Linked DNA regions of Homo sapiens. The protein of the gene in region 1 interacts with the protein of each later gene in a pairwise test. Each region holds a gene or a part of one and is shown in the gene's direction. Other genes may lie near its edges.

Region 1 (3,347 bases):
TGAGAAATGAATTATCTTGTTACTGTCAAGTGAAAGTGGGTGTCCAGAGTCCCACGTGTTCTCCACTGATATCACAATAAGAGGGTAGAGGAGGGATTCATTGCCATCTAGTGGGAATGAAAGTCCTGGCTTCTACTTGCCTTTTCTGAAGCCATGCTGAAGGGTTAAAACATCTGCTTATAATGTTCTAGGCTCTCAACATTTGATGGTGTGGGTATGGGTGGGTCACAGGGGTTTTTTGTGTGATGTTTGGCTAGAGGATAATAGTTACTGTTTAAAAGTTTTCTGTCTTGCTAAGGTGCCTCTTTCCTGGTCTTTTACCAGAGAGAGCAAGATGTTATTGAGGGTCTTTTTTGTTGTTTGTTTTGATATGCATGCCTTGGCATTTCTAGTTGCCAGCTTCTTCAGCTCCAAGTCTGGGATATATGAAGCAAAAAAGAAAACTCAGAGAACCTACCACTGTGGCATTCTTGGATCTCAAGATTCTTTATTTGTCTGCTTTTCCTCCACAGTTCAGAGTCTTCTTATGCTTGTTTTACATATAATGTCCAGTGTTTTTATTTGTACTTAGTGGGAGAAATAGGGAAAAGTGTGTCTACTCCATCTTCCCAGAAACAGAAGTCCCTGAGCCGTTGTTTTTAAAGTAAGTTACAGACATCATGATATTTTTTACCTTAAAATACTTCATGATGTATCTTCTAAGAATACAGACATCTGTCTACATAGCCAGGACTTCATATCACATCTAAGAATTTAACATTGATACAATATTATCTAATATATGATTCCTATTCAGATTATTTCTGTTGTCTCCAAAATGTTTTCTGTGGCTATATTTCTCCTGATCCAGGATTATGCATTTCATTTGATTGTCGTGTACCTTTTGATCTATGATACAGTCTCCCAGCCTTTTTGTTGTTGTTCTATTTTAGTTTGGTTTTATCTTTCTTAACATTGACTTTTTTAAGAGTTCAGGCAAGTACCACAATCTGGATTAGTCTGTTACTCGTGATTATATTAAGGTTAAATATTCTGGCAACAGTGCTGTATAGTATAATATGCTGAATATCTCTCATTGCTTCAGTCAGGAAATGTGATAAGTTTGATCATTTGGTTAAGATGGTGTCTACCAGATCCCCATTGCAAAGATATCTTTTTCTTCTTTGTAATTAATAAGTAATATGTGGGGTAGAGACCTATTATTTTAAAAGCCTTGGAAAACCTTGAATTAAATATATGTGTGTGTGTGTGTGTGTGTGTGTGTGTGTGTGTGTATATATTACTGGAAATGCTAGCTCATTTTTACAGTAGCATTCCAAGCAATAAATATAGATAAAAAATGGAAATATAAAATCACCATTAAGCGAACACCACAGTAATCATTGTTGCAGGCAAGAATCATTAATGGATACTAAAATTAATGAGCAAAAGTATGATGAGATAAGATATTCACATAATCTCAACTCCCTGCCCCCAAGACAATAATTGCAAAGGGAATAGATACCACCTTATTAAGTGATCTAATTTAATATGTAATAACATGTATTGCGTATCACCTCTGATATTCTTGCCAAAATTGTATAACCTCATTTCAATCTTGACAAAACATCAGACACACCCAAGTTGAGGGACATTCCTACAACATAACTGATTAATACTCTTCAAGACTGTCAAGGACATGAATTTTTTTTTTTTTTTTTTTTTTTTTGAGATGGAGTCTTGCTCTGTTGCCCAGGCTGGAGTGCAGTGGTGTGATCTCGGCTCACTGCAACCTCCGCCTCCCAGGTTCATGCCATTCTCCTGCCTCAGCTTCCCGAGTAGCTGGGACTACAGGCGCCCGCCACCACACCCGACTAATTTTTTGTATTTTTAGTAGAGACAGGGTTTCACTGTGTTAGCCAGGATGGTCTCAATCTCCTGACCTCGTGATCCGCCTGCCTGGGCCTCCCAAAGTGCTGGGATTACAGGTGTGAGCCACCATGCCTGGCCAAAAATTTTTTTAAAAAAAGATGGAGGAGCTGTTACAGATTGGAATATACATGACAATTAATGCAATACAGAATCCCAGATTAGATTCTGGACCAGAAAAAGGACCCTAGTGGGACAATGGGCAAAATCTGAATAAAGTCTGTAGATTAGCTAAGAGTATTGAATCAATGTTCATTTCCTGGTTTGATGATTATACTATGATTACATAAGAGGATAACGGGGAACAGGGTGAAGAGTATACAGTAAACAAAGCGTATACAATAAACTGTTTTTGCATCTTTAACTCTAAAATTGTTTAGAAAGAAAAAGCTATTTTTTTCTATTTTTTCAGTCTTATATGATGAAAATCACTGATAAATACTTCCAATTCATTTTGCTTGGATAGCAGTCTTCTTTTTAAGTAAACAGTCCAAATTTGCATAAGAACTAAACATATTTAACAGAACATTTCCACATTCTTTCTGCATTATAACAGACACTGGTGTGTCCTTCCCATTCTGAAGCCTGGACACAGTTTCTCAGAGAGACCTGGGCCTCTCTCTTAGACTTTGTGGTTCCTATACTTACCAGGTTGTGAATTTTAGACATCTTCTAGAAAACAGTTTATTCACTCAACACATTGAGCACTTACTATGTCCCAGGCACTGTTCTGGGCACTGGAGATAAATGAGTAAATAACAGTAAAAAATCTCACCCCTCATGAAATAGATTCTGTTGAAAGCCTATGGATGACAAACAAAATAAGCACATTTCTCAAGTATGTTTATAGTATGTTGTGGAGAAAAATAAAGCAGTAAAGGGTGAATGCCAGGATGGGCAGGAGCGGTGAGAGGGGGAGTACTTTCTTGACCGTTTCATCTAAAATAGCACCCACTATCATTCTTACTCCCTATCCCTTTTTCCTGCTTTCTCTTTTTCAAGACATAACTGTTTGATATTATATATTTAAAATACATTTATAATTCTTCCCCATTAAAATTTAATATTTATATGAACAAGGGCTTTGTTTTACTTACAACTGAAGAACAATGCCTGACTTGTAGCAGGCCCTGAGTAAATATTTGTTGAATGAATTCTCCCTCAAATGTTCAGTCAGATGCTGTACCTAGCATAGTTCCTTGTACTCAGTGGGCGACTAGTAAAATGTTGTGGATTTTGTTAATACTCAGACTCAGGTTATATTAAGAGTCCATTTTGTAGAATAGCTTGTATGTGCTTTTTTGTATTTTCCTGGGTGAGAATGGAACACCCGCAGACCCTGGGAATGCTTCTTAGTTGCCTGTCACCATGGGGAATTTGCTCAGCCTGTTTGCAAGGAAGTCATTCCATTGTACTTCCATTTAAAATATGATACAAAA
Region 2 (4,217 bases), on another chromosome or scaffold:
GATATTAATCCCTTGTCAAATGGGTAGTTTACAAATATCTTATCCCATTCTGTGGGTTGTCTCTTCACTTCATTGATTGTACTCTTTGCTGTGCAGAAGATTTTTAACTAGATGTGATCCCATTTGTTCATTTTTGCTTTGGCTACCTGTGCTTGTGTGGTATTGCTCAAGAAATCTTTGTCAAGACCAATGTCCTCAAGATTTTCCTCAATGTTTCTTCATTGTAGTTTCATAGTTTGAGGTCTCAGATTTAAATATTTAATCAAATCATTTTTTATTTGATTTTTGTATATGGAACGAGATAGGGACCTAGTTTCATTCTTTTGCATATGGGTATGTAGTTTGCCAGCACCATTTATTAAAAAGACTGTCTTTTCCCCAGTGTATGTTCTTGGTATCTTGGTGAAAAATGTCTTTACTGTAGGTGTGTGATTTTGTTTTTGGGTTCTCCTGTTCCATTGCTCTATGTGTCTGTTTTTAGGCCAGTACCATGCTGTTTTTGCTACTATCACTCCGTAGTATAATTTGAAGTAAAGTAATATGATTCCTCCAGTTTTGTTATTTTTGCTTAGGATAACTTTGCCTCTTCAAGGTTTGGTGTTCCATATAAATTTTAGGATTTTCTTTCTGTTTCTGTGAAGAATGTCTTTGGTATTTTGATAGGAATTGCATTGAATCTGTAGATTGCTTTAGGTAATACGGACTTTTTAACAATCTTGATTCTCCCAATCCATGAACATATAATATTTTTCCATTATTTGGTGTCTTCTTCAATTTCTTTCATCAATGTTTTGTAGTTATCATTATAGAGACCTTTCATTCATTGGTTAATTCCTAGGTATTTAATTTTATGTGTGGCTATTGTAAATGGGATTACTTTTTTATTTCTTTTTCACATTTTTCACTGTTGGTATATGGAAACTTTGCTGATTTTGGTATGCTGATTTTGTATCCTGCAACTTTACTGAATTTGTTTGTCAGCTCTAATAGTTTTTTAGAGGAGTCTTTAGGTTTTATTCAAATATAAGATCTTATCATCAGCAAACAAGGATAATTTGACTTCTTCATTTCCAATTTGGATGCTCTTTATACCTTCTCTTGCCTGGTTGCTCTAGCAAGGTAATATGTTGAATAACAGTTGAATAACAGAATAAAAAAAAATCTCTGCAAAGTAAACAAATCTCACTAGTTTATCTGACTTGTATTCCAAATTAGTGCTTCTGGCCTTTTCTTAAAACTTTAAGCATCACAAGGAAATCAGTTGGAAGGGAATCATGTGCTGATCAAGTCCTTAAAGGGCAGAAATATTCACTGAAGTGAAAAGGATTAGTAAAGGGTGGAAAAAAAGACCAGCCCCCCGCCTAGTTTGGGTGAGCAGATTTGGGATTAATTATCAGGCAGCAATCCACATGCACTTAACAGTTCTGACGTGAGAGGACAAGAAACACAAGCAAATATAAAACATTCAATTCTAAGAGAAGTTCATCAGAGACATCCTTCAGGATTGTGAGGTACTGGAAAGAAGTCCTATGGGGAGTGGGTGGACACGTGCCAAAACTCCATTAGTGTAAGGGACTTTAAATCACAGAAATTAACTTGCTGGAAATCTGTTCCCAATTCTTCCTTCAGCTCCAAGGTTAAATTAAATGTAATTAATGATGGTGACCTGCTAATTCATGCTTTTGATAACTGATATCTAGTATGTATATATATATAAACAAAATGACGAGGACAGGGAATTTAATTATTTGGGTATCACACATGCAGGTGTTATATATGCCAAATTTTAAAGGTAAAATTTGTGTGAAATGTCACACTTTTATTATTTGTGTGAAATGTCATTTTACATATGGGTTCCATTTTGAAAGTGGTTTGGGAAGGGGGCATACCATTTTAAGTACCAAGAAAAACTTGCATAATCTCATTTTACTTTCTCTTTTTCAGCTGGATTTTCCTCTACGTGCTTCAGTCTTCTCTACACAAAGAGCTGCAAACCAGGTCTTTGTTTTGCACTCTTATTTCAAGCAGAATGAGTGCTCCTAAACTCCTCTCTCTGGGCTGTATCTTCTTCCCCTTGCTACTTTTTCAGCAGGCCCGGGCTCAATTCCCAAGACAGTGTGCCACTGTTGAGGCTTTGAGAAGTGGTATGTGTTGCCCAGACCTGTCCCCTGTGTCTGGGCCTGGGACAGACCGCTGTGGCTCATCATCAGGGAGGGGCAGATGTGAGGCAGTGACTGCAGACTCCCGGCCCCACAGCCCTCAGTATCCCCATGATGGCAGAGATGATCGGGAGGTCTGGCCCTTGCGCTTCTTCAATAGGACATGTCACTGCAACGGCAATTTCTCAGGACACAACTGTGGGACGTGCCGTCCTGGCTGGAGAGGAGCTGCCTGTGACCAGAGGGTTCTCATAGGTAAGTGGAGATATGAATGAGTTCATAAGTCCTGCATGAGACTCAAGGCTCTTAATAAAATCTTAAATCATTTGAGCTGGAGGAATACCTGGAAATCATATAGCTCAACCCTCTCTTTTCATAGTTGAGGAAACTGAGGCTTAGAAAGGTTAAGAAACTTGTTTAATGTAAAGGGTTGGAGTTGAAGCTCAGAACTTCTGATCAATATTTTATTCTGAAACATTTATTGAGCAACCACTATATCCTAGGAACTGTGTTAGGTATTATGACTAGTCAATTCAGTAACTCCTTCAGGTAAACATGTTAATTGTCATAGATGAGGTTCAGAAAGTTCAAATCCACACAGGTGATATTTAGTAAACCTGGAATTCATGCTGAGATCTACCTAGCCCTTATATTTTAGTTCTGCAACTACCCCTGCTGACCCTTAAAGAAGTTTCCCACCATGATGATCAAATTCAGCATTTGAGATGAAGAGTTTGGCCTGCAGACTAAATAGCATTAAATAACAAAGCACTAAACAGTAACAGCCAACAATATTTGATTGTGTTCTATGTGCGAGATAGTAGACTAAGGGTTTAAATGAACATGTATTGAGTCCTTACTATGAGTTAGGCCTTGGGCTAATTGCTTTTTATGTGTGTGGTCTTTGAACTTTCAATTCTGTAAAGCAAGTATTATTTTTATCCACATTTTAATGATTAAAAAAAAACTAAGACTTGGAAAAATGTGCCCAAAGTCATAGAATAATTCTCTGGTCTTAACTACTATGTTATATCACCTAATTTTCAAAGATTTATAATGTTAAAAAGACAGAAAATTCCAACAAAAATGCCAACAGTGGGCAGAAATCAACATGACAAGGTCACAGAAACATAAAATCCATAGGTAAGATTAAAGAAAGGTAATATAAATCATGCAGTAAATTGGAGAGAGAAAAGGGAAGAAAGAGAGAGAAAGCAGGCTTGAAGAAAGGGTTTTAGTTAAGGATATTTTTAAAAGTGTAAAATAATTTAAAACACATTTGAACAGATGGATAAATGGGTCGTGGTGTGTTACAAGATGATTATGCTCTTTCTCTACCCATCCCCGCAAGGCAGATGTTTTCATGCTTGAATTTTGTATCCCTAAAGTCAGGAGAAATCTTCTGGACTTAAGTAAAGAAGAAAAGAACCACTTTGTCCGGGCCCTGGATATGGCAAAGCGCACAACTCACCCTTTATTTGTCATTGCCACCAGGAGATCAGAAGAAATACTGGGGCCAGATGGCAACACGCCACAATTTGAGAACATTTCCATTTATAACTACTTTGTTTGGACACACTATTACTCAGTCAAAAAGACTTTCCTTGGGGTAGGACAGGAAAGCTTTGGTGAAGTGGATTTCTCTCATGAGGGACCAGCTTTTCTCACATGGCACAGGTACCACCTCCTGCGTCTGGAGAAAGACATGCAGGTATGTAAGAAGCATTTCAGTTTGCAGACTCTTTACAGACAAGATGCCTTGTTTGTAAGTGATTTTAATTCACTAGTTTTCAGAATCATCAGAACATTTGATGAAAAAGCAATTTTATGTTACTAACCTGTCTTTGGCATTTCGTTTTCTCCTTATTTTGGTTACTTGTTAATTAATCTTTATCTTGGTGAAGTGAAAATAAAGCAAAATCAATAATGAGCAAAATGAGACATTTGCAGGAATGAATTAAAAGTTTAAAAATATTTTGCAGTTTCATTGAAAACATGACTTTCATAAAGCTTGAAACAGAAGAATCTCATTTGCATGTCTTCCTTCTCTACTAAATA
Region 3 (4,147 bases), on another chromosome or scaffold:
ACCCTTGCGAAAAACTTTATTGGCAAAGCTATCAGAGAACGGACAGTGTACCCACTGAGGCGGCCAAAGCTTAACTGGATCAGGGCAGGTGAGCTTACAGCTAGGAGCGTGACTGCTTTGTCCTACAATGGTCATTTGGTCCATCCTTCTGCCCCTTTCCCGCCTCCCCGTTTGAGCCAAGCCTCTTTCAGATTACTGGTTAGAGTGACTCCAGCTTTCCCTTTTCCCCCATAATTTAAACAAACAAAAAGTGCATGTGAAAGTTTCCTTGGAAAGGGCCGAGCATCACATAGGAGTAAAGCCCCGGAAGAAATGACTTGTACAAGCGTCTCGGCCCTTCAGCTCCCCTCCCAAAGATTTCCAGCTTGCATATCTATCTCTTACGAGCCAGTAACATTTATTGAACTGCCATCTTCCAGCCACAGTGCAAGATTCTAGACACACAGAGGTGAGCAAGCTAGACACTATCCCTGCCCTCCCAAAGCTCAAATGATTTTAGGGATAAGGACTCATAGAAATGAGAAGCTAGTCCCTAACGTTTCTATCTCCTAATCCTCACATTGGAAATCAGGGCAGGTGGGCTTACAGCTAGGAGCGTGACTGCTTTGTCTTGTTTTAGCTTAAAACCTAAGTTAAAAAGCAAGGGTGGTTTGTTTTGTTGTTGTTGTTTTTGCCTGTGTATGAATTGTAATGAGAACATAAATTGCCCTTCTACCACTATGCTCCTGGCTGCAGCCACCCACCTTCTTTCTGTTCCTGAAACAGCCTAAGTCTTTCCCATCCATTGGTCTTTCACTTGCTGTTCCTCTGTCTGTAACACTCATACTCCTGATTTCCCATCAGGTTTCAGCTCAAATATTACCTTACCAAAGAGGTCTTTCCTATTAAAATTGTCTAATTGATTTAGTTGCTAGGCTTCTTCATTATGTTACCCCAATAGAACATAAGCTTCTCAAGGGCAGAGACCTCAACTGTCATCTTGTTCTCTTCTGTGTCTGCCTAGCTAATAATTGGTGTCCAGTAAGTATTTACTGAATGAATAAGTGTACAAATTCCATTTCTGGGTATCCCAGCCTACTCCGAGCACCCTTTGTTGCACAAATCCACTTTTCTCCCTCTGCTTTCCTGAGCTGGGAGTTCTTACGCATTCCAGGTGCCTAGAATGTGAACTTACCCCTTTGCCCAGCTGCATCCCAACTTTCAGAAAGGATGACATCCTCCTCTGATGCTTTTTTTTGTCGGCAGATTCAGCAGGGCGGGGCCTGCCCCTTTAAGCTGGGCCCCACCTGCTCTGGTCAGACAGGTTTTGAGACACAGGTAAAGGGAGGGAGACAGAGAGAAATACTTGCAGAGCCAGCAGGTAGCTGGGCAGCTCCTTCCCGGACGGACGGATGGACAGACGCTGGGGACCCTCCACTCCATATGGAAAGTAAGAGGATGTCATGGGTCCAAACTGCAAGGTTTGGAGTGCCCTTGAGATAAAGGAAGGGAATCAGTCCCATCCAGAAGCAATGAGATGGAGGGCAGCAGGGAGGAGAGAAAGACAGGAGAGAAGGCATAGAAAACAGCCATGATCAGACCTAAATATCAGAATAGCAGACCCAGGCCCTGCAGAGATGGATGAGGTGGGCTAGTGAGGAGTTTGGGAACTGACCAAGTACCAGTGAAGGAAGAGGGTGCCTGGAACTGCCAGCTCTTTGGGTCAGATCAGTTGGCAAATCACTGGTCTCACTTGGAATGCAGGAGGGTTCCAAGCAGGGATGTGTAGGGATGGGACAGTGGAGAGGAAGCTTCTCTGTCTACAGCAAGATCCTCAGTGGGAAAGAAACTTGGCAAAGTTCTAGACACCTCTTCTGCCTCCTATTCCTGCATTAGAGTGGCCATGACTCCAGGGGTTTTGGTGGAGGGGCATAGAAGGCGTGGGTGGAGGCTGACTGAGTTCACAGCTGCCAGGGCCTGTGTCCCTTGACTCACCCTCTCCTGTTGGACGGCATTTGATGTCGAAAGGGTGCCTCCATTTCAGCTGCTCACTTCCTTCCCTCCTCCCTCTGTTTCAGTGTCTTCCTCTGTACCACGTTCTCCCTAAGGCTCCAGAAGGGGCCAAAACCCATGAAGCCAGTTGCCCTGGAGAGTATGAGTTCTGTCAACCTGTCCTAATAACTAGAAGACAGGGGTTTCTGACAGAGCTTTCCTCTGTTCCCTGCAGGATGACATGACCTTGTGGTAGATCCCAGAACTGAGGCCCCAGGATGACAGAACAGGAGACCCTGGCCCTACTGGAAGTGAAGAGGTCTGATTCCCCAGAGAAGAGCTCACCCCAGGCCTTGGTTCCCAATGGCCGGCAGCCAGAAGGGGAAGGTGGGGCCGAATCCCCGGGAGCTGAGTCCCTCAGAGTGGGGTCTTCAGCTGGATCTCCCACAGCCATAGAGGGGGCTGAGGATGGTCTAGACAGCACAGTAAGTGAGGCTGCCACCTTGCCCTGGGGGACTGGCCCTCAGCCCAGTGCTCCGTTCCCGGATCCCCCTGGCTGGCGGGACATTGAACCAGAGCCCCCTGAGTCAGAACCACTTACCAAGCTAGAGGAGCTGCCCGAAGACGATGCCAACCTGCTGCCTGAGAAAGCGGCCCGTGCCTTCGTGCCTATTGACCTACAGTGCATTGAGCGGCAGCCCCAAGAAGACCTTATCGTGCGCTGTGAGGCAGGCGAGGGCGAGTGCCGAACCTTCATGCCCCCCCGGGTCACCCACCCCGACCCCACTGAGCGCAAGTGGGCTGAGGCAGTGGTGAGGCCGCCTGGCTGTTCCTGTGGGGGCTGCGGGAGCTGTGGAGACCGTGAGTGGCTAAGGGCTGTGGCCTCCGTGGGAGCCGCACTCATTCTCTTCCCTTGCCTACTATACGGGGCATATGCCTTCCTGCCGTTTGATGTCCCACGGCTGCCCACCATGAGTTCCCGCCTGATCTACACACTGCGCTGCGGGGTCTTTGCCACCTTCCCCATTGTGCTGGGTGAGCCTGTGAGAAGAAAGGGGGCATCGGGAAGTGGACTTGAGGAGGGCAGGGCCTGGCTGGTGTGGGGAGCAGGAGGATTTCCCTTCACTTGACCTGGGCCCCTCAGGGTCTCCCACCCCCTGCCAGTCTGCATGCCCATCTCCTCCCAGGACCACCTCCACCCCACTGTGTAGAGCCCATGCACTGCCCACAGTGAATCTGCCCCCAGCTTACTGCCTCTTGTGCCCTTCCCCTGCCTTTTCTGACCCTACCCTGTTTCCCAACTCCACCCAGGGATCCTGGTGTACGGGCTGAGCCTGTTATGCTTTTCTGCCCTTCGGCCCTTTGGGGAGCCACGGCGGGAGGTGGAGATCCACCGGCGATATGTGGCCCAGTCGGTCCAGCTCTTTATTCTCTACTTCTTCAACCTGGCCGTGCTTTCCACTTACCTGCCCCAGGATACCCTCAAACTGCTCCCTCTGCTCACTGGTCTCTTTGCCGTCTCCCGGTAAGTTGGGGCAGAGGGTGGGGCATGGGAGAGGGGATGGTGCTAGAGAACCTAGGCATCTGAATGTCTGGAGAGCCAGGGTCAGGAGCTTTCCGGATTCTACACTGGCCCAAATGTGTGCCCTGGGGAGATAAGTCCACCTTCTCTCTTGCACCTTACCTCAGCTGGTCAGCAGATGGAAGCCGATTTCAGAGACATATATAACCATATGGAACAAGAAGGCTTTCAGGTGTCATCTAGATCAATGCACCCATTGCAGCCACTCCTGTGGCAATCTGGTCAGGTAGCTGTTTTGGTCTCTGGTTGAACACCCCCTGTAACCAAATGTACAACTTAAAAATAGATATATTTTTTCAAAATAGAGACAAGGCTGGGTGCAGTGGCTCATGCCTGTAATCTCAGCACTTTGAGAGGCCGAGGTGGCAGATCACTTGAGGTCAGGAGTTCGAGACCAGCCTGGCCAATATGGTGAAACCCTGTCTCTACTAAAAATACAAAAATTAGCTGGGCATGGTGGTGCACACCTGTAGTCCCAGCTACTGAGGAGGCTGAGGCAGGAGAATCGCTTGAGTCCAGGAGGTGGAGATTGCAGTGACACAAGATCGTGTCACTGTACTCTAGCCTGGACGACAGAGCTAGACTTCATCTCAA
Region 4 (3,500 bases), on another chromosome or scaffold:
TCCCCACCCTAATAAGCCTGATAGTACTGCAGGAGACCAGGGCGTATCTCAGTCCTTACCTCAACCACATAGGACGGACATTCCCAGAGCAGCCATTTATAGACCTCCCCGTAGGAATGCATTCCTTTCCCAAGGTATTAATGTTAATATTCCTTGCTAGGAAAAGAATTTAGCAATATCTCTCCTACTTGCACATCCGTTTATAGGCTGTCTGCAAGAAGAAAAATATGGCTCTTTTTTGCCCGACCCCACAGGCAGTCAGACCTTATGGTTGTCTTCCCTTGTTCCCTAAAAATCACTGTTATTCTGTTCTTTTTCAAGGTGCACTGATTTCATATTGTTCAAACACACATGTTTTACAATCAATTTGTACAGTTAACACAATTATCACAGTGGTCCTGAGGTGACGTACATCCTCAGCTTATGAAGATAACAGGATTAAGAGATTACAGGCATAAGAAATTATAAAAGTATTATTTGGGCACTGATAAATGTCCATATTAAAATGAAATCTTCACAATTTATGTTCTTTGCCGCGGCTCCAGCCGGTCCCTCCATTCGGGGTCCCTGACTTCCCACAGGAGAAAAAGAACTTGTTTCCCTTTATTATCATAACAGTTTCACTATGCAAGCTACTAATTCTCCCCACAGCTGTCCAGATTTGGCCTTTCCAACATTAGTTGCCATTTACAAATGTGTACACTGATTCACCATCCTCTCTGTGGATAAATGTATGAGTCCTCCTAGGGTCTGCCCATTAGTGCATTAGTTGACAATTATTAGGTTGATGCAAAAGTAATTGCAGTTTTTGTCATTAAACTAATGGCAAAAACAGCAATTACTTTTCCAACAACCTAATACTTGGCCTGCAGAATGCACAATACTAGATCTTCATCCAAAATATCTTTTGAGACATTCTCTTAAAAGTTAAAAAAAAAAAAAGGCAAAAATTGGCCAAAAGCAAACAAGCAAAGATAACAACAACAACAAAAAACCCCAATGGTATGATCCTAAACTTAAGTTGACTCAAAATTGGCGCCCCAAATTGGACTCATAACCCCTTTTCCTCAAATCTGCTGTCATCTCTGTCTGACATGTGGCAGCGTGATCTTGCCAGCTACCAAAACTAGAAAGCAAAGATGTCAGATGTGGCTCCTTCCCATCCTTCCTCATCTACTCACCAAGTCTTACTGATTTTACCTTCTAAACATATATTTTAAAGGATATTCTTTCCTCTACATTTTTTCTACTAATGCCACATTTCAAGTTTGTGTCATCTATTACCTGAATCACTGTAACTGCCTCTCAGTTTTTTTCTTCCTCCAGTGTTGACCCCTAAAATCCACCCTCCATACATCAGCCAAAATAATCAATACGACACATAAACCTGACACTATAATTTAATCAGTGGCTCCTCATTCATTTTTTGATAAATCTTAATATGACATGTGGGACCTTAATCTGAACTTCTTCTGGCCTTGACCTTTATGATCCATCCAACAACACTAATCCTACTAGTGGTTTCCACAAGACCAATCTCCTATCTGTCATTGCCCACACCCTGCCTGATGTGTCCTTTCACCCTGGGGAAAGCAAGTGAAAGGGCATGGCAAACCACTGCTGGAATTGTATTGTGTGCCCCTCTGTGTTCCCGTAACTCCCTGTATAGAACTCTGCTGTGATACTCATCACAATGTATTAGGTTGAAACTGCCAATATTCAATCTTTTATTATCAAAACAATAACAGTATTACGTGGTCCTACTTAACTATGATACTTATGTTTCTTTCTACTACACAGAGAACTTCTTGGGGTCGGGACTCTACCTCATTCATATTTGTGTCAAGGTTTTTCTAAGCTCAGTGAATATGACCTTCACATTAAAATGCTGAAAGAACAAATGGTTTAATGAACTGTGGTTAACTCATTATTTCTTTTGCAGACAGTAAACTGACATCCATGAATAGTTTTTAATGACATGGAAAAAAGTTTAATGTTACATTTTTTAAAGCCTGATATGGAATACACAGAGATACCAACATTCACAAAGTATTCAAAGTTCATAAATATAAAAACTAGTATTTTAAGATTTTTATCTTCTTTTAAGAAGCTTGCTTTAAATTCAGCTCCAAATAAAAGAAGCTAGTCAAAATACTAAAAGCAAAATGTGCCTATATACCTGCCAAAAATGTGTTGTTAACAATCTTGCCCAATTCAAATGGAAAGAATCTCACTACTTTTTAAAAATTATTTTTAATTATTTTCAGCTGTCGATATAATATGTTCATATCAATTATTACCTTGCCCTCTTTTTTGCTTTTTCTAGCATGGACTGGAGGAAACAGCTGCCAAATGCAAGGGACTGGGTGCCAAGGTTCATACCTTTGTGGTAGACTGCAGCAACCGAGAAGATATTTACAGCTCTGCAAAGAAGGTGAAATGTTGTGTTTAGTTAGAATCATATCATGTTAGAGCTAGGAGGTGTTTTGGAGATGACCCAGTCTGTACATGATATAGATGAAGTACCTGAGAAATGTTGTTATTTGACCAAGGTTATAGAACTAGCTCATAGCAAACCCAAAACTAGAACCGAGAACTGAACCTCTCAAATATTAGTATGTTCTGGAATTTTCCAGGGAGTTGTTAAAAATGTATATATATACTCTTGGGCTCCACTTCCAGAGATTTTCTTTCAGTAGGTTGAAGGCAGGGCCTCAAATACATCCACCCTGCCTCCCATGCGCCTTCATCTCACCCATGATGCTCATATAGGTAACTATGCCTGGATGACACTTGCAGAATTGCTGACAGGGTCTTCTGAAGCCCATTCATAGAATTGGGTTAGAAAGTTACAATAAAGCTATTCTTTATCAGGTTTTTATTGTAGATAGATCTATTTCTTTTCTTTTCTCTTTTTTTTTTTTTTTTGAGATGGGGGGTCTCACTCTGTTACCCAGGTTGGAGTGCAGTGGCATGATCTCGATTCATTGCAACCTCCACCTCCCAGAATCAAGCAATCCTCCCACCTCAGCCTCCCAAGTAGCTGGGACCACAGGTGTGTGCCACCACGCCAGCTAATTTTTTGTATTTTTGGTAGAAAACGGGGTCTCACCATGTTGCCCAGGCTGATCTCGAACTCCTGAGCTCAGGGGATCCACCCACCTCAGCCTCCCAAAGTCCTGGGATTATAGGCATGAGCCACGCTCCCAGCAGATCTATTTCTATAAAGCATTATTTGCCTCTTCTAGATACAATTGAGATGTGCTGTATATAATGGGGTTTCACTCTGAACGCATTCTCGCTTGTACCTGTTAACTAAATACCTTAATGGCAGCAAGGTCATCAGAATTACCTGGGCAGATTCCTTAAAATACACATTCCTGGACCTTACCCCTGGATATTCTAATTCAGTGCAGTATAAAAAGTGTGATTCAGCAAGACTTGAGAACCTCTTTGTTTATGGAATTTTTGGTTTGAGTTCTTTTTTTTTTTTTTTTTTT
Region 5 (3,500 bases), on another chromosome or scaffold:
AACTACATGAGACTTTCAAATAGTTTTGTTTTTATCTAATTCATTTATAATGAATATGTAGGTAATAATAACTTCCTTTTTGAGTCTGGAAACATTCCAAAGAACAGTCAGGTTCTCACTGTAGAAATACAAAACATATATATATATATGTAAGTGTATATATATATATGCAAGGAACACGGTAGGGACAAAGTAGATTGCCTAAAATGAACACTTAATCTCTATGAAAAGAGACTTTTCTGTCTTATTCTCCCCTATATCCTCAGTGCTAAACATCATGTGCAATATATGATGGGCACTGAATAAGCAGTTGCCTAATGGATGAGCACTCTTCATGTATTATATTGCTGAACAGGTAGGTGGTAAGGATTTGGAAATTTAAGGATAATTGCTGTTTACTGACGGAACAAAGAACTGCGAAGATCTCAATTAATACTTTTATTTCCTTCCTCTCAGTAGGACATTCTCTCCACAGTAAAATGTATAAGGCCAGGGAGCGGGGGTGGGGGGAAATCACTGTAGATGGTTGTTGGTTTTAGCACGTATGGTAATTATATAAAGCAATTTTTGTCATAGCTGAATAATGATTCTTGCCTTAAAAGCAGGGAATTATTTCCTTTTTCATGCCATGTCGTTGGTTTTTCGTTTTTTATTCAATTTGGTATATTGGAAGGAAATCGATGCTTAAAAGTTTAACCCTCTACTTTTTTTAAAAAAAATCTCTATGCTCTTTAGCAAGTCTCTTCCAATTTCAAGAAAATATGGTGCTCATGCTCATATAGTGGAGATGAGCATGAAATTTATTATGATAGCCTTTATTTAAGCAGTCAATATTTATTCAACTGACCAGTACTGGGCACTGGGGATACAGTTTTGAGCAAAACAAACATTTCTGCTTCTATAACACTTATATACTAGAGGAGCAGAGGGGCATTAACCAAATAATCACATAGATAAGTACATAAAGGATGCTATGAAAAGGCATTAAAATGCAGATCCTATTAATACATATTATATAGGAAATAAAGAATATTAATTTAATTTGAATGCTTACCCAACCCTATACGCTAAGACACAACGTTAGGTTTTTTCAAAGAACCATACTTTGTAACTGAAAGATTATTTTTGAGCTTTTACTTATCATCCTAATAGCTGATAGTTAATTGATAATTTATGTGTCAGATATAATACCGCATACTTTATGTGCATTTTGAAATTCTTGCAAAAACCTTCAAAGTAGGTAATATCATTCTTACTGAGGAAATTTAGGCTGAGCAAGTTTAAATAACTTGCCCAAGCGTGCACATACAGGACCTGCCCAAACCCAGCTCTGCTGGAACTTACCTAACATGTTCAACCATCATGCTGCTTCCTGTGATCATTTAAAGTAACCAATTTAAAGCGATATTGCACATAAAGATGGCTAGCTTATTTATGGAGAAAAATAAAGTGGATAGTATATGCCCAGTGCCTTTCTGTTTAAAACACATGATTTTGTTGGATGTTAAACCTCCAAATTTTACCTTTTTGAAAAGTGAGTTAACATTTATTGATCATCATATTTGTGCCAAGGTGAAATAATTTTGTTTCCTACCTCAACTCCCTGCATTCCTTCCCTCATCCAAAGATTTTCCTGATTTACTACACATAGTCAGGGAATGGTAATATTTTAAAGAAACGTCTGTTAATATGGTCACACATATTTCCACCTTAGTGGAGCAAGTCACTAATGATTTATGCATGTGACTTTAATCACCATTTCTCTTTTGTCTGGTTACTTAAGAATATGAGTTGTTTTCTTTTTCTCCTAGAAGTCTTGTGGTACCAGCCCTATTTACAAAATTATAAAACATCCATAGAAATCACTTAATTTAAGCAAAACCAGGAGTACTTTTGACTATTTAACCATTTATGTATTTAGTGACTGTCACTAATTCAGTAAATATTATTTACCACCTATTGGGTGCCATTACTAAGCTCTGTGATGAGGGTTAGTAGTGCACAAGGAAAGTCCCTGCATTCATGGAACTTCCATTATAATTGTTCATATCTCCTTGGAAAGTGGAGTTTTCCTAACATGTGTAAATTGTCCTGGTTTGCCATTATTTATTTAGCTAGTCAGTGTATATCAAATGTTTTCTATATAAAGAGACCCAGAAACTTGGAAATGTATTTAACAAGTACTAGTTCGCAAGTAATGAATATTTTTTTGCAAAGGTGAAACTTCCCTTCACAAAATGTTTACTCATACACCTAAAATATTTTAAAGTGTCAAGTTAGTTTGCTATGTGGTCAAGTGCCAAAATACCAAGATGATGACATAACTGATATGTCAGGGATCATAATCCCTGATATGATTATCATATCATAAGTGAAGTGATAATAGAATGCTCTGTTTTTAAGTGATATTTGTTATGTGTGCAGTTCTGGGAGGTAAAAGTGGAGATGTACTAGTTTGTTGGGGGCGTTGAGGCCAGAGCAATGCTTGCTCATGTAATGCCACATATAGACATTGATATCTATACGGGGTAAATGTATGAGACTACCTGCCCTGATACTATCCACCTTAGACACTGCCTAGTGATCTCAAGAGCTGAGGAGATCTTTGCTTCACCACATCAATAGCCATTTGCTTGTATGACACCCTGGCTCAGGAGATTTGTAGGACAATGCTGAATGTGGACTATGTAAAGTAGTTTGACAAGTTATCATATGGGCCACCTTTAAGCCCACACAAATCTGTTTCTGATAAATTTGAATGACTGTTATATCTCTCAAACTTCTGAATATTAGGGCTTCAAAGATAATAAAGACATCATATTTGTGTTCAAGGAGCTTATCTAGTGAAGGAGTACCACTGCTTTTTGTGGTAATAAACTAAACTTTTGGGAATGTGGCAGCAAGAGCTGAAGCTATTTGGAGAAGGCTGCTCTTAAATATCATTCCTGTTAGACAAAGCCATCTGAAAAGCCACTTCATAACATAACAAAAACTATTATATTTTTGTAGAAGACTAAATATTTATCTCTAATCAGCATAAATCTTTTACAAACTTGCCCTGTAACTGAATCTATTTTCAGTTGACCTTTTCTGCTTGGATATATTTCATTTCACTCTTAACTGTGCAGGCAGGGAGAAGTATTGGATGAGAGCTGTAGAAAGGGGTCCATTTAAGAATGAACTATCCAGTCTTGTTTAAATGCCATTAGTGGGGAAAGAGCAAGTACAGAAGGAAATATTGAAGATATGGGAAAGGAAGATACCTAAGAAGACATTAAGGAGGGAATCTAAATAAAGCTCTTGTCATAGGACAGGAGAGAGATTTTCCATTGAAATGTTCCCATTTCCATGCCTTTCATTCTCTCTTATGCTTTTTGTAGTCTGGCTTCTAATTCTACCACTCTAGAATTACTCATGCAGAAGATGGTTAATAAGCACATTGTCTCAGTTTCATGGATATTTTCCCCTTTTCTGTAGCACTCAGTGCACTGGTTCTTACT
Region 6 (3,500 bases), on another chromosome or scaffold:
GTGGGCTGTCTTAAAAGTGACAAAATAAATTATGCTAACAAGATCTTCCAAATTAGCAGTTCCTTTTCTAAGTGGTCAAACTAGAATGCTCTTCCCCGTGAGTATTAGACTCAGTCAGCCACCTTTCTCTGCCTACAAAGCATCTCTACTCATGTAATAATATGAAAACCATTGATGATAAAATGTTAAGTAACAGTGAGATACAAAACAGTGCATTCACAAGACTATAACTATGATAAAAAGAAGCCTTATGTGTAGAAGAAAAAAAAAAACAGAAGAAAAGGCACCAATGTGTTAAGTGGTGGGAACAAGGCAATGGAATAATACTTATTTTTCTTATTTTCTAGACTTTTTATAATGTGGTTTTGTTCAGTTTATAATTGAAAAGACATAATTTATTTTTTAAAGGGAGGGATGGAGGTCTTTTGAGCCAAGCAGAACAAGGACAAAGCTGCCTTCTTGAAATGCTAGGGCCCAGACACTTTGTTTCTTTTCTGTATTGAGGGGTTCTTTTCTCTTGTCGGGGAAACTGCTGGACTGACGCTGGTTAAAGCTGTTCAAAGAACAACAGCGCTACTTCACCTAACCTTCTTTGCTTCACCTCTTTGCTGAATTCCAGAACTGTATTTGTAAGTTTGTCCTCTTAGGACACATGCTTTCTCTGGAATTTTTATTTTCGTTCTATGATTGCCCTAGCATTGTGAATATTAGTGGTGATCTGGGGAGGAGAGGAGTCTAAAGCTCTACTTTTCCATTTACCTCCATGTAGAACCAGCCCAGTTGAGAGCCTCCATCCCTGGGCAGGAGCCAAGGTCAACAGTAGCAGTGACTGGGCAGGGACAGTCTCTGGGTCATCAGTAGGAGGGTAGGCCTTTAAGACTTTTTCTAGAACAGTCCTGTTCAACAGAAATAGATAATGTGAGCCACATGTATGTTTGAATTTTCTAGTAGCCATATTTAAAAAGGAAAAAGAAACTGGTGAAGTTAATTTTATTAATGTATTTAATATACTAAAATTATTTTTTCAACATGTAATCAATATAAAAACTGTTTTGCATTTTGGGGGGTACTAAGTCTTTGAAATACACTCTAGTGTGTACTTTACATATACAGCACATCTCAATTCAGATACAAAGTTTTCATTTGAAGTACTTGATCTATATTTAGACTTCGTAAAATTTATAGGTGAAAAAGTAGATTCATACCCTAACTGTTCCAAACATACTTGAAAGTTTTCAAAAAACTAAATTATCAGCTTTTAAGTTTAACTGGATTAAACTTAGTAAATGGATTAAATAGTAAAATGAAAAATGCAGTTTCTCGATGATACTAGTCACATTTCAAGTGTTCATGTGCACAGTGTGCCTGGTGGCTACCTCAGTGGACAGTTTTAGCAATGGGGGGAGGGTCTCTCCAATAGCTCCTTGCCTTTTGTGACACCTGCAGAAAGCAGGGCCAAAGGAATTTGGCTTTGCTAGTTAAACCAGCCTCACTTTTTTGTGCTAGAAGTTTGTGGGGAAAGAGAGTGACGAGGTGATTCAGCGCAGTCTCCCCATTTTCCCAACAGTGAGACTGAAGCTCAGAAGGGCCAATTTAGCTCCAGCCACCTGTAGTAGAGCCACAGCCAGAACTGCTGCTGTGGATGGCCAGGCCCCTTTAACCCTCCCCAGGAACTCCATTCTGTGTTCTTCCCACGGGTGTCAGCAGATGTGCCATGTAAACACCAGCAGTGGCTTGAGTGAGATGAAGGATGAGCTCCTCCCTCACTTGGCTGGGCTTCTGAGCACTCTGTCGCCCAAGGTTGGTTGTCCTTGCAGAGATATGGGACATCTGGAGGCAGCCTCTGACTTTGGGAAACCAAAAGAGCACTGACTTGTACTGCTCCCTAGAAAGCTCCTCCAGAGAAGCCTTTCCTGTATCTTACTTGCTACTTGCATATATTCCAGGCAGAAGCTGCCTTCCTGGGTTTGGACCTGTGGCCAGAGGGGGCAATTTGCATGTGGGAACCCAGCAGCTGTCACAACTGCAGTGGCCCCAGCAATGTTTTTTGGCCTTACAGCTGCCAGTTATCTGACCTGGGCCCCAGTGCCTTACTCTCATGCAGCATCACAGGTTGGGGACAAGGCATTCGTTCAGGACAAGCAAAGGTTCCCCTGTGTGGTTCTCCCCTCCCAGTGGCTTTAGCTGATTCAGGGCTAGAGTCCAGCACCATGCTCTGCAGAATTGGGCTTATTCTCTCAACTGGTTCAGCAGACACAGAATTGTACGTGGGGCCAATATCTGCCTCCACAATTTAAAATAAATGGAGGAAGGATTTTGAAAATATGTTTTTCCCTCTAAGCATGTATCCTCAAAAATCTTTATTTACATCAGACCTTATGATAACTTATTTTGGAATATAACTATCACACCACAGCAGGTCAAACAAACTACACTTTTCTTCTGATTGTTCTTACATAGAGCATAAAGCTGACTTTGAATTCTGCTACAGCTCCAGCCTTCATGATTTGGCCGTGCTGCTTTCCAGAAGGTTTCAGGAAGACTGGTTATGCAAGTGACACTTCCTGTTTACCTATTTTTAATAATTAGTGGCTGAAGAAGATGAATTGTGACCACAAAGTGTTCTAATGTTATTTATTTGAAATGTTTAACTTGTGTAGTAGTGTGCCAAACAACTGTAGCAGTTCAGTTTACACACAAGGAACTGAACCAGGAATCTCATTAGCTACAGATCCCAACTACTTTTACAGCTAAAGATTATTTTGAAAGTGAACTGTCAGGAGCCTGAAGTTGTAGATTCAAGGCTGATGCTTGTGATAAAAAGAGGTGGTGATTAGTGAGGTGCATTTCTTCAGCCCTGGATGATCTCATACATATATATAACTTTTTTTTGAGACAAGGTCTCGCTGTGTCACTCACACTGGAGTACAGTGGCACAATCATAGCTTACTGCATCCTTGAACCTGGACTCAAGAGATCCTCCCACGTCAGCCTCCCAAGTAGCTAGGACTACAGGTGCACACCACTGTACCTGGCTAATTTTTTAAAATTTTTTTGTAGAAACAGGTTATTTTGTTGCCTAGGCTGGTCTCCAACTCCTAGGCTCAAGCATTCCTGTGGCCTCAGCCTCCCAAAATGCTAGGATTGCAGACATGAGCCTCCACACCTAGCCTCATCCATTCCTATGCTTTTTATCACTGTCTTTGTGTCATCAGCTCCCAAATCTATGCCCCTAGCTGAGACCACACTCCTGAGCTCCAAAGCTCTATATCCTGCTGCCTGCTGGACATCTCCAACTGCATTATTTTGCATATCCCCCCAATTTACCATATTCGAAATGCCTAACCTGTACTTTCTGCAGGATTCATTCCTGTTTCCCTAAATGGTTCCACCATCCTCTCAGTTGGCCAAGCCAGAAACCTGGGTCTTTGACTTTTCCCTTCCCCTTTTCCAGGCTTACAAGGCCCTGCAGGACCTGGTTCCTGCTCAGCTCCCCTAGC
Region 7 (4,150 bases), on another chromosome or scaffold:
CTTACCATTCACACATCCATCCATGCATCCTCTATCCATCCATTCATCCATTCACCCATCCTCCAATTATCTGGACCAATTTCCTTCTTTTTTCTTTCCTTCCCTCCCTCTTTCCTCTCCTCTTTCCTATATTCCAAGAAATATTTGTCTAGAGTCTGCCATGTGCCAAATTTCTCAGATTTGGCAGACTTCTTCAAAGCATGAGAAGCCGCCCAGGAGAAAATTTAGTCCTTCATTGAGCCCAAATCAGCTCTTCTGTGCCCTGAGCTTCTTGCACATATGGAACTCTCTATTTAGGACTACAAAGAAGGAGAGAGGAGGTGCGGACAGAGAGAGAGGAGAGAGAAACAGAACGATTCCTAGTCTGAGGTTGCTGAGCGCCCCTACTTTTTTTGAAAATCTCACATGGTGCAGGAAGCAGGGAGGAGAACCCAAGTCTTAGGTTTACACTTTGAATCTCCAAGTTGCATATTATAAAGGGATATTGTATCAGCCAAGATGCATTAATAACAGGAAGCAGGATATTCTATTGCAATGGTTGCCTATTTGGTATCTCTGCTTCCAGGCTTCTCCCCACCAGTCTGCTCCTCACCAGGATCAGAGTGATGTTTCTACAGTGTCCCTGTCCTTGTCTCTCTCCTGCCTGAAGTCCTTAATTGGCCCCATGTCACCCACAAGCCAGAGGTCCAGCTCCTTGACATGATCAGAAGGATCTTCATCATCAGACCCCAGGTGCCTCTTCAACCCCGTGTGCATCCCCTTCCTGTTGGAATGTATATTTTACATTCCAGCAATATTGCAACTATTTACAATTTGCCAAGCACTCCATGCTATCTTATGCTCCATCCTTTGGCATATGCTTATCTTTCTACTGGATTTTTTTTTTTCCCATTACTCCATTTCATATGCTTCTTTGAACTGGGCATATTTGTCTCTTGTGCTCATCACCTTGCAATTTATTTGCTCATGTCTGTCTTTCCTACCAGACTATGAGCTGCTTGGTGCAAGGACTGCGAGTTATTCATCACTGTGGCCCTATGCCTGGTAGAGCATCAGTACCTAGAAGGCACTCAGCCTGTATTTGTGGGGTGAATGGATGGGTGGATGGATGACGAGAGTCTTACAAGAGAAATGGGATAGGTTTGGGACAAGATGGTTAATGTATCCATGTAACAGACCCCCAGAGAAGACAACAAATGGCCTCTTCCTGAAAGCTCAGACTTCTGAGGATGGGAGTAAGCCAGACAAGGTATCTAGTCAGGAATAGGGAAGTTGGGATGATATGGTGACCTGCTGTGGGACTGACTTCCTGTTTCCTCTAGATAAGAGCCCTTGGAGAGACAGGCAGCCAGAAGCACCTGTGCTCCCAGGATAAGGGTGAGCACTCAGGATGACTGTGGAGAAGGAGGCCCCTGATGCGCACTTCACTGTGGACAAACAGAACATCTCCCTCTGGCCCCGAGGCAAGCCACATCGCTGCTGAGAACCTGCTCCGTGTTCTGTGTGCAAACCTGCCCTTTGCTGCTCCTTCAACACACATTTTCTTCTTCTTCCAACAGAGCCTCCTCCCAAGTCCGGTCCATCTCTGGTCCCGGGGAAAACACCCACAGTCCGTGCTGCATTAATCTGCCTGACGCTGGTCCTGGTCGCCTCCGTCCTGCTGCAGGCCGTCCTTTGTAAGTCCTCATGTTTCATCGTCTGGGCTTAGCCCCTCTCTGTGGCCAGCCGGCTCCCTTCAGATCGAGACCACTTCCCTGCTCTCCGGGTTTCTCCTGCCTGTGGCTTTTTCATTTGTCTCCTTCCTCCTCTTTCCATGTGCAGTAACAGGCTGTGCTGCCCCCAGTACGGTGAGCTGATGCTCTTTCCCTCCCAATTTCTGGGAGATTATTGGGATTAGCATTTGCACATTGGTGCTCAAGGATACATTCTTTTGTCCTCAGGAAACATTGATCTAGTTTTACATCCTGTGCTATTTTCTCCCCGTCCACCCCCCACCAATCTGAGCTCTGCTCCTTGGATCTAGAGCCTTGTGGACAGTCCTTGACAGTGCAATGTCTCCTGACCCTGTGAAGGACCGAGCCTCATGTATCATTGGCCCCAGCTCACCAGATGGAGAGCCTGGCCAACGAGCCAACAGATCTCCATGACTCAGTCCCCTCTCCCCAGGACTCGTTGGTGCTGTCTTCATTCTCCTGTCCCTGTGAAGATCACATCTAGGGAGGCTTCCTGCTCATTTGATGTTGCATGGTTTATCTTTCTTCCTTTTCTGGCTCTGTCAGGCTTCATGGCCTTTGCTGCTGGCAGAGCCTTCTTCCTCCTGCCAGGGCTCCAGGAAGCAGAGCAAAGGGACCCAAGAAGCTGTTGGGTTTTTTTTTCTCCCTCTGTGGCCTCGGGACATATTTGGGCTTAGACTTGTAGGCTCTGAGCAGAGTCCCCCTTGCCCCATCCTAGACCCCTGGCCTCTAACATCGCATTTTCCTCAGGGCTCGCCTTTGAGCCTCTTGGTTTATCTTTGATCCTCTCTCTGGTACCCAGGCCTGGGACCTGAGCAGAATGTGAAAGTGGGTGGGGCAAGGGAAGGGGAGAAACAGTTTTGTAATCTCCTCTTCCATGTTCTCTGGAGAAGCCACTTCCAGATTAGTGGCTGGTTCTTCCCATGGTCACAGAGGGGCCCATGGACAGATGTGGGGGAGTGGTGCTGTCCTAGCAGATGGCCACTGCAGGGGTTTCTGAAAACAGAGGGATGGCAACCAAGGGGTGGGGTCTAGGGGGAATCAAGTTCTGGGGACAGTGGTGGGGCTCATGGAGGGCACCCTTTATCAAATGTTCCCTGAACACTCAGAAAATTCAGGAATGGTTTCTAACTCCTGCTTCTGCTTGCCTGTGAAATCTTTTCACAGAGAGCCTGTGTTTTATCAATCTCCCCATTATCTGTATCCACCTGTGTTCCTGGCACATGGTAGGTGCCCATTGCACGTTTGTTGTACGTTAATGAATGATTGGAGGGTTGGGGTGGCCCATTGGACTGTCTTGGTTCTTTGGGAAGCTTCAGCCTATTCCTTCCCTTCCTTTGATCAACCTGACAACACCCCCACTCCTGTCCCTGGGACTCCCCTCAGCTGACCTCCTGACTTTCTCAATCCCAGATCCCCGGTTTATGGGCACCATATCAGATGTAAAGACCAATGTCCAGTTGCTGAAAGGTCGTGTGGACAACATCAGCACCCTGGATTCTGAAATTAAAAAGAATAGTGACGGCATGGAGGCAGCTGGCGTTCAGATCCAGATGGTGAATGAGAGCCTGGGTTATGTGCGTTCTCAGTTCCTGAAGTTAAAAACCAGTGTGGAGAAGGCCAACGCACAGATCCAGATCTTAACAAGAAGTTGGGAAGAAGTCAGTACCTTAAATGCCCAAATCCCAGAGTTAAAAAGTGATTTGGAGAAAGCCAGTGCTTTAAATACAAAGATCCGGGCACTCCAGGGCAGCTTGGAGAATATGAGCAAGTTGCTCAAACGACAAAGTAAGTGACTCAGAAAATTACATTGAAGCTGACCAGTGGCCCATGGGATCTTACCTGTCCCAGACCTGAGGCCATTGGGCTGGTGGGTTGGGGAGGAGAGTGGGGGCAAAAGAGGGGCAGCCATGGGCTAGGAAGTTAAGGAGAGAGGGCTTGAGGTTGGGGAGGACTTAGGGGCTGTTAGGAGAAAAGAGACCAGGGTCCAGCTAGAGCTCCCACACAAAAGTGCAGAATGTAAAAGCATTAGGGGATGTCCACCCTGGCCCACACCTAGTCATTTCCCATCAAGTTCCTTTCTAGAGTCCAGGGGCTCAGCCACTTGTCATGGCCGATGGAGGGTTGCTTCCTCATCATGGGGAAGACACTCTTTGTCCAACCTCTTGCATTATAACCTCTCCAGTCCCAGAGACTCTATTAGTCTCTGTCTGACTTTCAGGATTTGAAAGAGTGTCCCTAATCTCCTATACAAGGACCCAAGGACACCAGCGCACAGCTCCATTTGCTGCTGTCTCTGAGACCTCATTCAAGTGCCCCCACCAAGCCAGCATCCCAAGAAATCAAGAATACCAGCGTTCACTTTTACCTCTTGTTCTCTAGATGATATTCTACAGGTGGTTTCTCAAGGCTGGAAG

Evidence for each region.
Region 2: the proteins of SEC22A (region 1) and TYRP1 interact in binary tests that used the Homo sapiens proteins (3 or more experiments, as listed by UniProt).
Region 3: the proteins of SEC22A (region 1) and TMEM79 interact in binary tests that used the Homo sapiens proteins (3 or more experiments, as listed by UniProt).
Region 4: the proteins of SEC22A (region 1) and HSD17B11 interact in binary tests that used the Homo sapiens proteins (3 or more experiments, as listed by UniProt).
Region 5: the proteins of SEC22A (region 1) and FAM174A interact in binary tests that used the Homo sapiens proteins (3 or more experiments, as listed by UniProt).
Region 6: the proteins of SEC22A (region 1) and TP53INP1 interact in binary tests that used the Homo sapiens proteins (3 or more experiments, as listed by UniProt).
Region 7: the proteins of SEC22A (region 1) and CD207 interact in binary tests that used the Homo sapiens proteins (3 or more experiments, as listed by UniProt).

The regions. Positions count from the first base shown.
Region 1 is NC_000003.12:123,267,943-123,271,289, forward strand, and holds part of SEC22A (vesicle-trafficking protein SEC22a), read left to right. Parts: intron 1-3,347. UniProt on the Homo sapiens protein: May be involved in vesicle transport between the ER and the Golgi complex.
Region 2 is NC_000009.12:12,691,968-12,696,184, forward strand, and holds the start of TYRP1 (5,6-dihydroxyindole-2-carboxylic acid oxidase precursor), read left to right. Parts: upstream 1-1,417; 5' UTR 1,418-1,511; intron 1,512-1,944; 5' UTR 1,945-2,029; coding exon 2,030-2,414; intron 2,415-3,547; coding exon 3,548-3,870; intron 3,871-4,217. UniProt on the Homo sapiens protein: Plays a role in melanin biosynthesis. Catalyzes the oxidation of 5,6-dihydroxyindole-2-carboxylic acid (DHICA) into indole-5,6-quinone-2-carboxylic acid in the presence of bound Cu(2+) ions, but not in the presence of Zn(2+).
Region 3 is NC_000001.11:156,282,978-156,287,124, forward strand, and holds the start of TMEM79 (transmembrane protein 79), read left to right. Parts: upstream 1-1,347; 5' UTR 1,348-1,429; intron 1,430-2,206; 5' UTR 2,207-2,249; coding exon 2,250-3,006; intron 3,007-3,282; coding exon 3,283-3,496; intron 3,497-3,655; exon of another isoform or gene 3,656-3,810; intron 3,811-4,147.
Region 4 is NC_000004.12:87,381,189-87,384,688, reverse strand, and holds part of HSD17B11 (estradiol 17-beta-dehydrogenase 11 precursor), read left to right. Parts: intron 1-2,326; coding exon 2,327-2,434; intron 2,435-3,500. UniProt on the Homo sapiens protein: Can convert androstan-3-alpha,17-beta-diol (3-alpha-diol) to androsterone in vitro, suggesting that it may participate in androgen metabolism during steroidogenesis.
Region 5 is NC_000005.10:100,538,374-100,541,873, forward strand, and holds part of FAM174A (membrane protein FAM174A precursor), read left to right. Parts: intron 1-3,500.
Region 6 is NC_000008.11:94,942,879-94,946,378, reverse strand, and holds part of TP53INP1 (tumor protein p53-inducible nuclear protein 1), read left to right. Parts: exon of another isoform or gene 1-896; intron 897-3,500. UniProt on the Homo sapiens protein: Antiproliferative and proapoptotic protein involved in cell stress response which acts as a dual regulator of transcription and autophagy. Acts as a positive regulator of autophagy.
Region 7 is NC_000002.12:70,833,017-70,837,166, reverse strand, and holds the start of CD207 (C-type lectin domain family 4 member K), read left to right. Parts: upstream 1-1,350; 5' UTR 1,351-1,390; coding exon 1,391-1,463; intron 1,464-1,559; coding exon 1,560-1,676; intron 1,677-3,146; coding exon 3,147-3,521; intron 3,522-4,115; coding exon 4,116-4,150. UniProt on the Homo sapiens protein: Calcium-dependent lectin displaying mannose-binding specificity. Induces the formation of Birbeck granules (BGs); is a potent regulator of membrane superimposition and zippering.